2 separate regions of the Homo sapiens genome follow, and region 1 is linked to region 2. The links come from fine-mapping of genetic effects on gene expression. A gene starts in region 2. The other region holds a variant in brackets. All regions are shown on one strand. Distances are from middle to middle.

Region 1 (8,302 bases), 31 kb before region 2:
GCCGGCTCTGTACTTTACTGCCACCACTTTTGCATCAATTCCAGAAAATATATTAGAATGCAAGAGCATGAGATGCCCTGTGCCATTTATTTATAAAAATAAATCAACAATAATTTATTTTAAAAGCAAATTATTCACTAACTTTGATATTCTTACAACTAACCAGTAATAATATGTTACTGGCAGTATCCTTTACAACTAATCATGATATATTGGTGTGTCCCTATCTAAGAACAAGGGTGGGAAAGCCACAGTCCATAAGCAAACCCCGCCTGCTTCCTGTTTTTGTGCAGCCTGCAAGCTAAGAATGGTCTTTGGATTTTTTTAATGGCTTTCTGAAAAAAATCAAAAGGAAAACATTTGTGACATTTGAAAAGTACATGAAATTCAAAGTTCAGTGTCAATTAAGTTTTATTGGAACATAGCCATGCTCATTCATTTATGTATTGTTTATAGCAGAGCCAAACAGAGACTGAAAAGCCAAAAAACTACTATCTGACCCTTAACAGAGAAAGTTTGCTGACCCCTGGAGTAGAGATAAGAATGACACACAACCTCAGTGGTCACGTCTCTTATGCACAAAATCCTGAATATAGACAGTAAACTTAATTCCAGAAATAGTAGTAAATACCATCTAGGATGGAAATCCATTCCTGAGTTGTCCAAACTTTCTGATTTCTTTAATGACAAAAGCCAACTTAATTAAATACAGCTTCTGCATTCTATCTGAAATCATGTTTATATATTCACCTTTTGACTCAGCGGAGCAATAAAAAAAGCACTGGGCTCCAAGTTAGAAGACCTAGGTTTTAGGCAATTTCTTTTAAATTGTTACATTGTTAAAAATGTATTTAAGTCTTGTTTGATCTGTGTATTAAACCTATTAAAAGAACTAAAATGACTGGTAAAATAAAGAATCAAAATGCTTTTAAGCAGAAAAGAAAGTTGATATAGAGTAAAACATGCTCCTTTCCTCTAAATATAACTATAAAAAGTCCTCCAATTAATTGTAAATTACTAAATGGGGGAAAAAAGGCACCTAGCTAATTGGAGTATGGATAGTGGGTTCCATTTAATAAAAGTTTTAATGGATGTGCACGAAGGTGCATGAATGTGTAGGAAATCATATCACCTCCTTAGGCTTCAGCTGCACCTCTGTAAAATAAGAGCATTGGATTAAATGGTCTCTAAAGTCCTGGCCAGCACTGGTAATTTATGTCAAGTGACCAGCCTCAGTTTTTTCATCTGTAAAATTGGATAAATAATAGAATCTACTTCCTATGGTTGCGGTGAGGATTAAATGAGTTAATTCATGTAAAGTGCTTAGAACAGCACTAAATATATTTCACTAGCATTATTATTAATCTATTCAGGTACTTTACGAAAAACACTGGTTGGGCATCTCCTCTGTGACAAGTAGTATATTAGAAAATGGGAATACAGACATAAAATAGAAGTTGATTCTCTTATATTTAAGTAGGGATGAATGAAACTGAAGTTTTTGGAATTATCACTTCAGCATGTCTATCGACTGCTAGTTCTCTGAGATAATGGTCAAAGGCCATTCTGTATCACTGGTGTGAATTCTTATTTCTGAAAAATGATTACTGTTAGTACTGTTACTAAGGATGTTTCTATTTATGTTTCAAAAGACAAAGTTCAGTGTTTGCTAACATAATTATTTATGGTTTGAGCATAGGAGGAAGAATATAAAAATGTTGGCCAGTCTCCCAATATACATGAAATGCAAGCCTTCTGAACCAAACAAACTTGCCATAGAAGTATAGTTTCACATATAGATTCATTCCACAAATGTTTGCTGAGTACCTGATATGGATAAATATCTGCTACAATGATGAGTAATGGTCTCTGCATTAGGGAGATAACAAGGAGGACAAGCCAGCAATTCTAGAAAAGTATAACGAGCATGTTGATGAGGAAGCCCAATGTGCTATGGGAGCATTTGATGGGGGCCTGGACCTATGTAGTCCAGAGATTTGGAGGAAAAAATATTTAAGTTGTGACCTGATAGGTGAATAGGAGTTCATCAAGCACAAGAGGTGGAGAATATGAACAAAATGAGAGGTGAGATAGAGCAGGTCTGAAGAACTGAGAGCCTCTCAGTCTTGCTAAGACATAGCAAGTGAGGAGGAGTGGCAAAAGATGATATTGCAGGTCACAGAAATGGCTTGCATTTTACCTTAATGGCACTGAGAAGTCATTGAAAGTTCTAAGCATAAATAAGCAAAATCGGTAATCAAATGAGAAATCACTAGTGAAATAATTAGCTTGATTAGAAATGTAAGCGGAAGGAAGCTGCATTCACTTCTTCCTTCCCTGCCTGCTACTAAGCTGAAGTCTCTCTTTTGTTTTAACCTGTTTGTAGCTCAAATATTATACACATAAGAGAGAGAAATATAAAAATATTTGCTTCTTATTTACAACATGGCTGCCTGCATATCAGTATCTTCACTACTAAACAGCCACTAGAGCTGAGAAGATGAGACACAGGCCAGACTTAGCCATGCCCAGAGTGGAGTCAAGGACTTGAACCAGGGGACTTGAGTTTGAATCCTACCCAGTTCCATTATGCACTTGATGTCATTTAATTTCTCCCCATCTGCAATGAACAGAATTTCTCCTCCATCCCTCCTTGGAAGCTTTTGGTAACTGTGTTTGTTGATGTTTTCCTTATTTTGGTTCAACTCCAGGAGAATGTGAAAGCTCTCCCCACAGGCAGACTTTCACCTGTGACATGAATCTGGAGGGTGGTATTAGAAATCACAATCACCAGTGTTGCTCAATCATAAAGCCCACGAAGTTGGAACCAGCTTTAAAGCAACAAGGGCAAGCCAGAGAACTCTAGAATGCCAGAGTGGAAATGTCTCAGCAGCACTAACTATACCTGCAGACTTCTCTCCTCAAAATGGGCAGTTAGCACAGACATTTGGAACAAAGAACAAAGGAGTCCTTTGGGGCGCCTAATGTCAAGGCATTACTATGAATTATGCTGACTACCTGTCTAGTTTATAAGTCTGAACATTTTATTTTACTTATTTTTTTGAGACAGGGTCTCCCTCTGTCACCCAGGCTGGAGTGCAAGTGGCACAATTTTGGCTCACTGCAAGCTCTGCCTCCAAGGTTCAAGTGATTCTCGTGCCTCAGCCTCCCAAGTGGCTGGGATTACAGGCATGTGCCACCACACCCGGCTAATTTTTGTATTTTTAGTGGAGACAAGGTTTTGCCATGTTGGCCAGACTGGTCTCGAACTCCTGACCTCAGGTGATCCGCCTGCCTTGGCCTCCCAAAGTGCTGGGATTACAGGTGTGAGCCACCGCGCTCAGCCACAAGTCTGAACATTTAAATGGATATTCTAGGTGAATTCACTTTATGGGTCATTTTCCCATTTTCAATTATTTTTTAAAAAGCCACCTCATAAAAAAAATTCTACTCAAAATCTCTACAGTCTCAAAAACTGTTGGCTTATTATTAAAATGCCCTAAATTTTTACTAAGATGTTTTGTCTGATATAACACATTTTTAGGCCAGGCACGGTGGCTCACACCTGTAATCCTAGCACTCTGGGAGGCCAAAGCAGGTGGATCACCTGAGGTCAGGAGTTCGAGACCAGCCTGACTAAAATGGTGAAACTCCATCTCTACTAAAAATACAAAAAAATTAGCCAGGCATAGTGGCACATGCCTGTAATCCCATCTACTCAGGAGGCTGAGGCAGGAGAATCACTTGAACCTGGGAGGCGGAGGTTGCAGTGAAGCTGAGATCACACCATTGTACTCCAGCCTGGGCGACAAGAGGGAAAATTCATCGCAAAAAAAAAAAAAAATACATTTTTAATCACACTTAAGGTATGCTGGCTCTGACAAGAGAATTCACTGTAACCACAGATGAATACCTTAGTTTTATAAAATTCAGTGGTAGAAAAGTTCAAATTCTAACTGCTAAGAATTCCCTTTTTTTTTTTTTTTAATATCATTAACACAACTTTACATCTTCAGGAATGCTCACAGTTTGGTCTCCAACCTTTGCAAATAGCAGTAAAAATGTTTTCCCATAGCTGCTCTCTAACTGAGAAGAAATTTCAAATAAATATTATTTATTTAGTTAGTTATTTTTGAGACAGAGTCTGGCTCTGTCACCTAGGCTGGAGTGCACTGGCACAATCTCGGCTCACTGCAACCTCCGCCTCCTGGGTTCCAGCAATTCTCCTGCCTCAGCCTCCCGAATAGCTGGGATTATAGGTGTGCACCACCACGCCTGGCTCATTTTTGTACTTTTTAATAGAGACGGGGGTTTCACCACATTGGCCAGGCTGGTCTCGAACTCCTGACCTCAGGTGACCTGCCCGTCTTGGCCTCCTAAAGTGCTGGGATCACAGGCGTGAGCCACCATGCTCGGCCAAAATTTCAAATAAATATGAACTATTTTCATATCATTGTATTTTCCTCCAATCTCCCCATTGGCTGTGTAAATATCCAAAAGCACTTCTGCTTTACGGAAATTTGAAATTTCTTCTGCCCAAAAGGCTGACTGTGAACTTATGACATTCAGTAAAGTTCTCCCTAGTAATATTCAAAATAACTCTCTGTGCTATAGCACTCATAGTAAAGACTGTTTTGAGACATGATTTCTATACTTAGTTCCTTCTCTGCCTTTCTATTTGTCATTTCTAGCCAAAGTTATATGGTATGTGGATCATAAAAAGGCAGTCTTTTTGGGTCTCAAATCCCATTCAGGAAGATGGCAATCACAATTTTCATCAATCCAACTCAGAGATGTTGTGAAGTTAAATAAGAAAACATATGTGAAAGTGCTTAGAAAAGGTGTAAGTATGTTCCAAAAGTATAGGGTCATTATTAAACAATCTTCTTTGACTACAAAAGAAGCTTGTTCTTTCTTCCAAAAAGCTGAAATTATATGAGGTTTTTTTTCTTAAATAATTGAAGCTAAAATTATACTGGATATTCTTTAAAAAATATATTTATACTAAAGACTTCCCAATCCATGTAATCTGTTGGCCCTGCAGCTGTGGTTAGGGGGTTCCCATCAATAGGTAGAAGGTCAGAGCAACAATCAGAAGCAAACAAAATGGAGATGAGAAGGTTTGATAGGCAGCTGATGGCATAAAAATGTCTTCATACTTGTAAATACTGACAACACGCTCTGAAGCCGGCGGTGAGTCTATATCATGTCGAGTGATAGAGCCTTTAAGAAAAAAAGAGAAG[A/G]GCAGGGGCAATTGAAAAAAGAACAGATTTATAATGGTATAGGCAAACAATGGAAAAATCAAAAGTCTATTTAGTGTTGAATACGTAAGCAGTGGTTACAAAGATCTGGATTCAGGTATTTGAGTTATCAGAATTCTCTATCATTGTACATATAATAAAGAACATAGAAATTAGTTAAATTTATCCAAAAAGACTAGTTCTTATTAATCTGCACTCCCCCATCAGAACAATGCTGTTGATCTGTTTCCTGCCATCTCAATTTTAAAACTACTAGTTACATAATTTTGTGTGATTATTGTATGATTGCCTCCTAAAACGGCTCTATGAGTTTTGTCTTATTAATACCCAAATGGGCAAACTATATTTTTATTTCAAACAGCAGAGACTACTAACTTTTTCCCTCAAATCTATCTTGTATATATATGGATCATCAACAACTCCTGACAACACTACTAACGTCTCCCTTACAGATGGAAGCCCTCCTCTACTGTCTGTGGGACACTTAGTAGCCTGCCCAGGCCATGCCAGAGGGAGTGTGGTATACTGGATGTGTGTCTGTGTGTGTCTGTGTGTCTGGCAGATTAGGGTAGAATGGTATAGAAAGTGGGATGATTAAAGTACCAAACTAGTCTTTGGATGGGAAACTTTCTTTTAATTTTGTTACAAGTGGAAAGAAGTACAGACTGTGTGTAAAATATATTTAATAATCTTCAGTTGATTAAAAGTGTCTGACCTCCTGAATAATCCATTTGAAACTTGGGTTAGGGAGACTAAGGCATATACATTCAGTGCAAAGGTCTCCTTAGGAATAGGGCTCAGAGTGAGGGTTTTTAAGGTCCTATCTGCTAGGGAAGCCCTGCCAAACTTGACATGTCAGGTCCCTGCTTAGTGTCCGTGCTGGCCCCAGTTAGCAAAAATCAAACTTCTCAGGTTTGTATGCCTGTAGTTTCAGACACTTGGGAGGCTGAGGTGGGAGGATCACTTAAACCTGGGAGGTGGAGGCTGCAGTGAGCTGTGATTGTTTCACTGCACTCCAGACTGGGTAACAGAGCAGACTTTTCTCTCAATAGATCCCAGTCACCTCTCCTACCTAACCTCAGCTCACTGGTCACCTGCAAGGGCTGCTCAACTTAACTATGCGCCTACAGTTCATGCCTTCTTTGAGTGAAATCCAACCTCATACCCCTTTCAAGCCTTAGTTCAAAGTTTTCCCCCTTACAGGGACCTTAGGAGAATAGGTAGGATATAATCAATTAAAAGGGCATTCAGGAGGCCGGGTGTGGTGGCTCATGCCTGTAATCCCAGCACTTTGGGAGGCTGAGGTGGGCGGATCACAAGATCAGGAGTTTGAGACCAGCCTGGCAAACATGGTGACACAGCGTCTCTACTAAAAATACAAAAGTTATCTGGGTGTGGTGGTGGGCATCTGTAATCCCAGCTACTCGGGAGGCTGAGGCAGGAGAACTGCTTGAACCTGGGAGGCTGAGGTTGCAGTGAGCCAAGATCGCGCCATTGCACTCCAGCCTGGGCGACAGAGTGAGACTCCGTTTAAAAAAAAATAAAAATAAAAACATAAAAAAAATAGAAGGGCATTCAGGAAACAAGAAAAGCAGAAGCCAGTATATGGGGTAGGAATGTGCCTGTTTTGCTTAGAGTTAGTGAGAAGAACAGAAGTTTTGAGAGAGCTTATCAGGTAAAGCAGGACCAGATTTGGAGAAGGCTTTGAACTTTAGGCTAGTCTGCCATATATGTAAAAAGATGACCTTCTGAAAATACAGCTTTTTCCAATTGGTAAAGCAATTTCAAATACTTGTTTTCACTTAATCCTTACAATATTTCCATGGAATAGGAAGTATTATTATCCCCACTTTAGATATAAGGAAATGAAATTCAGAAATTAAATAATAGGCTAAATATTATACAGCTACCAAGGGGCAGAACCAATACTCAAACTCAAATTTTTAGACTTCAAATCCCACTATTTTAGATTACTCCATTTCTCCAGGCTGAGATATAATTTATTTCCCAGGGTACCGAAAGTAATTGAAGTTATAACTGCAGAGCCACTGTTGGTAATCTGGGAAATTAGCAAATGGAAAAGGTGTCACCAATCTGGAGACAGTCAAGTGTCTTCCCAATTGGCAACAGGCAAAATAAAAGGTAGATTATGTCATCTCTGGGCTGATTGGTGGAAACGAATTGAAGGAAAAAAACAACCAGATCAGATTAGGCAGCAAATAGTTGATGAGCACACAGTAAAGAAAGATGCAATTACCAGGAGCCAGAATGAATTCTCAGTGCAAGGACTGCAAACCACACTCACTTCCATTCTTGAGCAGGCCCTTAGGCTAATCAACCAGAAGGAATGCTCAAGACTCAGTGTAACTTGATTTTAGCAGTCTCTAAAAGGTCTCATGATATCCTTGGGTCTTTGCTGGGCAAATGCTGCAGAGACTTGCCACCCAAAATGAGGTCATCAATGAACCAGCATGACCAGGGAGCTTATTAGAAATGCAGAATCTTGCCAGGCATGGTAGCTCACACCTGTAATCCCAGCACTTAGGGAGGCCAAAGCTGGTGGATCGGTTGAGCCCAGGAGTTCAAGACCAGCCTGGGCAATATGGTGAAACCCTGTCTCTACTAAAAATACAAAAAAGTTAGCCAGGCATAGTGGCGCATGACTGTAGTCCCAGCTACTTGGGAGCCTGAGGTGGGAGGGTCACTTAAACCTGGGAGGTGGAGGCTGCAGTGAGCTCTGATTGTTTCATTGCACTCCAGCCTGGGTGACAGAGCAAGACCCTGGGAGAGGAGGGAAGGGGAGGGGAGACCAGTAGAGGGGAGGAGAGAGGGGAAGACCTACAGAAAACTGCACTTTAACAATATAGCCAGGTAATTCCTATACACATAAATATTTAAGGAGTAATGGGTTAAACTATGGGATAATTTGGTAGATTTGTGACTAACAGAATAGTCACAAAGTGGGCCCTAATGAAATGCTTGGTGTCAATCTCTGGAGAAGTCTCCAGAAGCCCTTCCTGTTCAGTACTTTTTATTATTTC
Region 2 (8,310 bases):
TTCATGACTATTTGAGACATAAGAAGGGGGTACCCTGCACAGAGGGAACAAGTAGCCTAGTCACTAGAAATGGACAACCTCAAGTGTATTGATAGAATAAGTCAAAGGCATTACCGGCACTTCTTCACTTGCCACGTCCTCCAAGGTCAGTCAGGTTCCCTCCTTCCTTCTCCACTGAATCTGTCCTAGGAGAGTTCCACCCATAACCTCTCATCTCCTGAAACCATCGATAATTTTGAGCCTTCATGCTATCAGGCCACACCTTGGTAGGAAACAGGCTCTTTTCCTTTGCCTTCTGGGACACCCCTCTCTCCTGGTTCTTCTTCCCTCTCTCTGGCAACCCCTCCTCAGCCCCCGCTTTTAAGGCAATGTCACTGTTTATTTCTAAGCGTCTTGGGAAAGTCTCTATTCAGGACCCACAGGGATGAAGCCTAGGCCCAGGGTAATCTAGCAGAGGCACTGCCTCTGATAGCCCCACGCCACTTACATCTCAACTAGCACCCACCGGATGGTGGTAGAATCTGTATGCAAAGAGGAAATGAAACTGTCAGAGAGAAGAGGGTAGGAGAAGAATGGAGAGTAAAAGCTCAGGGTGAGGGAAGGGGAGATATGGTTGTAAAAGGAAGTTGAGCCAGGGAGGACATTTCAGATAAAGCAGTTGAATATTCATTCAGGGAGCAGGTTGATTTTTTTTTTTTTTTTTTGAGACCGAGTCTCACTCTGTTGTCCAGGATGGAGTGCAATGATGCAATCTCAGCTCACTGCAACCTCCCCACCTCCTGGGTTCAAGCAATTCTCCTGCCTCAGCCTCCTGAGTAGCTGGGATTACAGGCGTGCACCACCACGCCCGGCTAATTTTGTATTTTTAGTAGAGACGGGGTTTCACCATGTTGGCCAGGCTAGTCTCGAACTCCTGACCTCCTGATCCACCCACCTCAGCCTCCCAAAGTGCTGGGATTACAGTCGTGAAGCACCACGCCCGGCCCCATCACAGACTTTTGAGTGCAATGCCAACAGGTTAGAGGCAGACTTCAGGAGGGTTAAACCAGTTTTATGTGCAGAATGGTGGGGGCGCGAAGCAGACACACTAGGGATCGGTACAAAGCCCTGCTGCCTGCTATGTGATCACCTCACCTAAATGCCTTCCCTCTTCTGTGTCACTGAAGTCTTTCCTACTTCATGGCTTGACTCTATAAAAGCTGTCCTTGATGGCTGTGGCCCACCTGATGTCCACATTCATAAAACTTTCTGGACTATACAATGAACATATCATTCTCTCTGCAGAGAGACTCAAAGGACGTACAGAATCTGAGCTTATCCTTCATTTGTTAGATGCATGAGCCCAATCAGAATACAAGTTCTCACATACCACATTTAAGTCACCTGGCAGCACTAGGCTGTGTACAGTGTAAAGATACATTAGATGCTTTCAGAAACAGACGGGCTTCGGAATATTTATTCTTTTCCAGAGTGACAGATTCCGCCACATGGCTCTCCAGCTAGAAGACTACATTTCTTAGTCTCCCTTGAAGCTAGGTCATTGTAACTATGTTTTTGCCAAAGGAATGTGAACAGCAGTAATGTGGGCAGCCAGCCTAAAAGGTAACTACTTGCCCTGAACTTCTCTTTTTCTTTCCCTCAATCTTGAACAAGGACATGCAACCTGGCTTCTACTGTACTGATGAGGACAAAGCCTCAGGGGGATGGCAGAGCAACAAGATGGAAAGAACCCGGGTCCCTGAATGACCTTGCGGAACAGAGTCATCCCACCAGCCCCAGACCAACCAGACTCTTATCAGAGAGAAAAATAAACTAGCTTATTTAAACCACTATATGTTAAAATCTCTAATTCAGCAGTTAAGCCTCTACTTAATACATTTCCCCAAATCCATTCTCTCCATCTTCTTTAATACAATAATTCTGATTTTTGAACTGGGCATATTATGTCTCAGCTAATAGGCTCTATTTTACATCCTCCTTTGTACCTATGTGCAACCATATGATTAAGTTGTGGCCAAAGAAGTATAAAAATTGTTATATGAAACTTCCGAGTAATCCCTTTATAAAGTAGTCAGTGACCTTCTTCCTGCTTCATTTTTCCCACTGTCTAGAATGTGAACATAATGGCTGTAGCTCAAGCAGTTATTTTGAACCATGAAGTTACATGCTAAGAATTGTGAAGAAACAGAAGGGCAGGATCCAGAGACACTGGTGACCAAGGAGCCTCCAGACCAGTTCTGGATTACCTATTTCTAGTTTTCTTTCTGTAAGAGAGAAACTTCTATCTTGTTGAAGCTATTAATGTTTGCTTGTTGTATACAGCTGAACTTAATCCTAACAACAGACACATCCACTAACAGATATGAGCTCCTGGGACTCAACACTTCAAACCCCAGCTTGATGGTTGGATATCCCTCTTAGCAGAAGAAAAGGAAAGTCACTACTTCCCAAAGTTGCTTAAAGAGGCCAGTTTCCATTCCTTCTGACCACCATCCGCTTGGCTTTTGTGCTCGTTGAAGCAGCTCTACAGGGAGGCCCTTGGCTGACAAACTCCCAGTCTGCGGGCCCAGCAGGCCACAACAATGGTGGCTCGCACTAGGGGACCATAACATATGTGGCGTCATAAAAGAGGAGGGATGGGAGTGGGGAGGCTGATGTGACCCAGCTCTGACGGGTCAGTGAGCAGGAACAGAATGCTACGAGGTGGGCGCTGGTCACTGCAAATTTAAGTCAATACAGACAGGGAGGAAATAAGGCAACCTCTCTCTTTAGGTTGGGGTTTTTCTGCTTCCCCCTAGCTGCCCTGGCCAGATGGCGGCCTCCTCCCCTATAACCCAACCCCAGGCGGCAAAGGTGGAAGCCAGATCTAAGAACTGGGGGAGCTTAGACTCAGCACCCACCCCTATCCACAGCCTTGCAGAACTTGGATGACCCCTCCCTCTCCCAGCCTCACTCTCCCCATCTGTAAAGCGGGCGGCAGGCATTGACAGCTCTTTGGGCCTTTCCTCCAGGCCGGCGGAGGCCTGGGCACTGCGCTCCCCATCCTGGCCTCGCCTCTGCAAGAGCTGCCTCCACGGACATCTTTTCCGACCCCCTCCCCCTCCCTCGCCCCCTCTCCTCGTTCCCCCGATCCTCGGTCCCCCACCCCCGGTCTCCCCTCCCGCAACCCCTCGCCCTCCCGCAGCCTCACCCTCCTCCGACAGGTAGCGCAGGTCGTAGAACTCCCCCGCGAAGGTGCCGTAGGAGGAGTCGTGGCGCGGCACCGCCTCGTCGGCGCCCGTGTCCCCCCGCGCGCGTCCCCGGGGTCCCCGGCCCCCCGGGCCCGCACCGTCGTCCGCGGGGCTGGCTGCGCAGGCGGCGGGCCCCGTCAGTAGCAGCAGGAGCAGCGACGCCCAGACCCCCGGGTGCTGCCGGGGCGGCCGCGCCATCCGTGCGCACAGATCCCGCAGCCAGGCCGCTCGGGCCGCAGCGGGGGCGCCGCGGGCGCGGGCCGGGACTGAGCCTCCGCCGAGGCCACCAGCACGCGCCCGCGCAGCCGCGGAGCCTCCCGCACCCCCGCCTCCCTGCCTCGGTCTGCGCATCCTCGCTCCAGCACCGCAGCCTCCCCCTTCTTCTTGGAACCCCCCTCCTCCCCGCACCGATCTCTCCTTCCTAGCAGCTTCCCTTCTACCGTCCTTCTTTCCATTCTCCCCATCTCCCCGACTTCCCTCCACGCAGGCAGATTTGGCCCTTCTGGCCCCTTGCTACTCCGGAGTGTGGTCCGCGGACCGGCAGCATCAGCATCACCTGGAAGCTTGTTAGCATCGCTGAGGCCCCACTCCAGACCCATGAAGCGGGATGTTCATTTCATCAAAATTCCCAGGAGATCCCAATGCACGTTCAATTTATGAAACGCTCCTCTAGAGAGTTTACCCTGGACACACCTGGTCAGTGCTGCCTCCTCAACCTTGTGCCGGCACTTTTTGGTTTACATAAAGCACTTGCTAGACCTATTATTTCTTGGATCATCACAGAAGGAACTTGAAATTGCAAGACCCCCACAATAGAGCTAGGTAAACTGAGGTGTTTAGAGACAGAGAAAACTGGATTCACCTGCTTCCTCTCCAGGCTCTTGCGGTGTGTAATCAACAGAGGCTGGTGCCAGTAGGTAACCTGTTCCCCTTCAAAACTAGGCTTCTGGTTTACTCTCTTTCCCTGCAGCAAGCACGCGCAGGCCTTGGAAGGCCCACACCGTATCTGAGGGCCATGCTGAATTGTTGATTTTTCTCAAATCCATTCCTGCTGCTTGCAGTTCACTTTTGGCTATTTACTCAGCCATCCATTGATTCACACCAAGCATTTGCTTTATGGCAGGTCCCAGGGTTCTCTTTTGATGATGGTTGTTGGGGTGATATATTCGAATTGCTAAGCTGTTTTCCATCAGAGAGGCGGACGCAATTCCTTTCAGGCTGGTGTTGCAGAGCCAGCATTTTAACCTGCTTTTCCTATTTTATTATTTTATTTTATTGCATAAACAAAATAATTATGGAGGCAGAAAAGCATAGAGGTCCCAAATGCAGACCTAGAAGTCAGACTGCCTGATCTCTCATGATTAGTCATTGACATGATGCAATGAAGATTAGGGAAGATCATAGAGGTAAGGATCAATAGGGTTCAGTGCTGTAAGTGGCATGCACACATGTACACAATATTGTGAAATGTTAATATTCAAAAGGAAACTAGTGATCTTAACCCTTTATGGCCTGATTGGCTGAGAGATAAGGGTAGTGCTGTTGAAACAGGGGAGACATGATGGGGGACTTAGAAGTCAGGTATTTTCTATTAGGTATCAGCTAACAGTGGGCTGTCCAACTGGAATTTAAACATATTAATCCTGATGGCTGAATTGAGGTGTAATTCATGAAAACCTTGGGCTTCACTAGGTCCCCCAACATAGCAGTTGTCACAAAAAATAGATCAGATTATTTGAAAAAGGTAAGATGAACTATGATTACTTTAAAAACTCAAGAGACTTCTTCCCAAAAAGCATAGCGTGGCAATGCATAACATTCTAAAAAAGCTGATCCAACAGATTGAAAATCTGTTAAAGTGTAGTCCTTCAAAAAAAAAAAAAAAAACAAAAACAAAAACAAAAACCTTAAACCTTTCTTAAAAATTAAAATTTCTTTATTTTCTTTTCTTCTCTTTCTGTTCACCAGGGAAGGTATGGTCAACTTAGAATGGACCAAAGTTTAGCCAAAAAAATAAAGCATTAGACTTTTGATTTCAGTGTAGATTCTCTGGTTTGGGAATACAAGCTTTTACCTCTTACTTTCCTTTTTATTCCCTTCATTTTGGTTACTGAAATTAACAATAACGGTGCCCAAATAGAAGGCAAATGAAAACCAGGCCATTCTTCTCCGAGTAAATTAATCTGATATAAAAACACGTGGGCAGCCGGGCACGGTGGCTCACGCCTGTAACTCCAGCACTTTGGGAGGCCGAGGCGGGCGGATCACAAGGTCAGAAGATCGACACCATCCTGGCCAACACGGTGAAATCCCGTCTCTACTGAAAATACAAAAAATTAGCCGGGCATGGTGTCGGGCGCCTGAAGTCCCAGCTACTCGGGAAGCTAAGGCAGGAGAATGGCGTGAACCTGGGAGGCGGAGCTTGCAGTGAGTCGAGATCAGGCCACTGCACTCTAGCCTGGGCGACAGAGCAAGACTCCATCTCAAAAAACAAACAAAAAACAAACAAAAAAACAAAACAAAACAAAAAAAACCACCACCACGTGGGCTTTCTATATTGTTTTTATGGGGGTATTTGGGTATTTTGGGGACGGTTTACAACTACAGCCTAAAATGAAGTTTGCAGGTAAACTGTGGATTTCAATTCTCTCTCTACTCATGTAGACTCACAGGGGGCCACAGATAGGCTTCAGGGGTGATATGAGGACCTTATGAAAGTGCTGGAATAATGTTGTGATGTATGGGTTTTTCTAGGGAGAAAACCCATAGCTTTTTTTATGAATTATTTTTTCCATGTTCAACTTTTTTTTTAATTTACTTTAAGTTCTGGGATACATGTGCAAAATGTACAGGTTTGTTACATAGGTATACATGTGCCATGGTGGTTTGCTGTACCCATCAACCCGTCATCTAGGTTTTAAGCCTGCATGCGTTAGGTATTTGTCCTAATGCTCTCCCTCCCCTTGCCTCACCCCCCACAACATGCCTCGGTGTGTGATGTTCCCCTCCCTGTGTCCATGTGTTCTCACTGTTCAACTCCCACTTATGAGTGAGAACATGCAGTGTTTGGGAAAACCTATAGCTTTTATGGGTCACTCAAGCCTTATGCCTTTTCAGGGCCCAGCAACCTATTCGGCTCCTTCCATTTCATGAGATTCTCTCCCATCCACTCAAATTGCCTTTGGGGATTTTCTTTCTCTTCATGTTTTCTGACACGATTTAAGTCCTGGAAAGAGTGGAGGCAGACCTATTCCAACCTTAAGCACATGCTCCCCTCTTAGTTACATCCTAGGTTTGCAGAGACCCTCTGTTCCCCACCAATGTGACTCTACAGAACAGCTAAGAAATATTGTAGTTTCCTCTACTGTGCAAATTTTCTGGGGAGGAACTTTGCCTGAACATTCTGAGACCACTGGCTGTACAAGAGCTGGCCACTCAAACAAAAACTTAGAGATGAACCAGATTTAAATTCATTTTCATTTTAAAAAGAAAGACAGTACCTTTATTTTCTCTCCACCTCAAAGCAATTTCTCTGACACAACCTTTTTTGCGATTAAAAACTCCCAAAATCATTGCTGCATCTTGGTATCTGATGAGTAACCGATTTGCCCAGGCTTCTGACTGTCTAGTATATATAATTTTTCACTTTGGATTTTGTAAGAAATAAAAGCTGTGATTGTGGCAGTTCCTTAGAAAGTTAAACATGGAGTTTCCATTTGACCCAGCAATTCCAAGAGAATTTAAAACAGATGTTCACACAAAAACTTGTACACAAATGTTCATAACAATATTATTATTATTATTTTCTAAGACGGAGTTTCACTCTTGTTGCCCAGGCTGGAGTGCAACGGTGTAATCTTGGCTCACCGCAACCTCTGCCTCCCGGGTTCAAGTGATTCTCCTGCCTCAGCCTCCCTAGTAGCTGGGATTACAGGCATGCACCACCATGCCCAGGTAATTTTGTATAGTAGAGATGGGGTTTCTCCATGTTGGTCAGGCTGGCCTCGAACTCCTGACCTCAGGTGATCTGCCCACCTCGACCTCCCAAAGTGCTGGGATTACAGGTGTGAACCACCGCGCCCAGCCTAGCAGTATTATTCATAATAGCCAAAAAGCAGAAGCAACCCAAATATCTATCAACTGACGCAACTGATGACTGGATAAGCCAAATATGGTATATCCATATAATAACACATTATTAAGCCATAAAAAGGAGTGCAGTTCTGATACATGCTACAACATGGATGAACCTTGAAAACACTATGTTAAGTGAAAGAAGCCAGTCACAAAAGACTACATATTGTATGATTTTGTTCATATGAAATTTCCAGAATAAGCAAATCCATAGACGGAAAGTAGATTAGTGGTCGCCAGGTGATGCCAGGGGTCAGAATCAGTAGTGACTGCTAACAGACATGGGGTTTCCTTTTGGCATGATGTAAATGTTCTGGAATTAGATAGTGGTATTGTCTGCACAACATTGTGAATGCATTAGAAACCACTGAATTGTACGCTTTAAAATGGTTATAGTGATGAATTTTATTTGAGTTTTTAAAACTGTAATTTTTGAGATGGTGAAAGATAAATATGATACCAGAATATTCCTCTGCTATATTCCTGGGGAATATAAAATTCTGGGTGCATGCAAGTGGGATCTTCTGAATGCCCTAGGATCTCAAACTCTTCAAACATAGAATTTCCTATGCAGTTTACAATCCATAAAGCTGTGGGTTGCAGGTTTCCCAGACCCCTTGCAATAACCTTCCATGCCTACTGGGAATCTGCATCCTACAGTTTGGAGCCCTAGCTCTGGAATGACTATGTCAGTAAGCTGATTGTTTCCCCCGGACATAAGGTGTGTGTTGTGTGCCCATATAGTGCTGTTGTTTGGGTTTAAAATATATAAAAAATGTGAAACAATTGCGCCAATTCATTTTCATCCCTATGAATCCATCCAGCACAATTTCATCTTCTCAGTCACAATGCCAAGCACCCATCATTCACTTAAATAGGCAAATAACCAGGACAACTGCTGAAACCATGGAATCCTCTTATTTTACTGGTTAGAGGTGAGCTGCCA

What was found.
Region 1: its variant is fine-mapped to the expression of FRRS1L in cerebellar hemisphere (GTEx, PIP 0.90).

The regions. Positions count from the first base shown.
Region 1 is chr9:109,132,405-109,140,706 of GRCh38, forward strand. It overlaps FRRS1L (ferric chelate reductase 1 like), which reads right to left. Exons shown (of 5, transcript NM_014334.4): 5 at 1-5,223. The coding sequence ends at 5,051. Among named protein-coding and RNA genes, the nearest start is that of TMEM245, 17 kb to the left of the region's middle. The variant A/G (reference allele first, on the strand shown) is at 5,244.
Region 2 is chr9:109,163,711-109,172,020 of GRCh38, forward strand. FRRS1L (ferric chelate reductase 1 like) reads right to left here and starts at 3,539. Exons shown (of 5, transcript NM_014334.4): 1 at 3,191-3,539. The coding sequence starts at 3,428. It overlaps EPB41L4B (erythrocyte membrane protein band 4.1 like 4B), which reads right to left. Exons shown (of 26, transcript NM_019114.5): 26 at 8,264-8,310.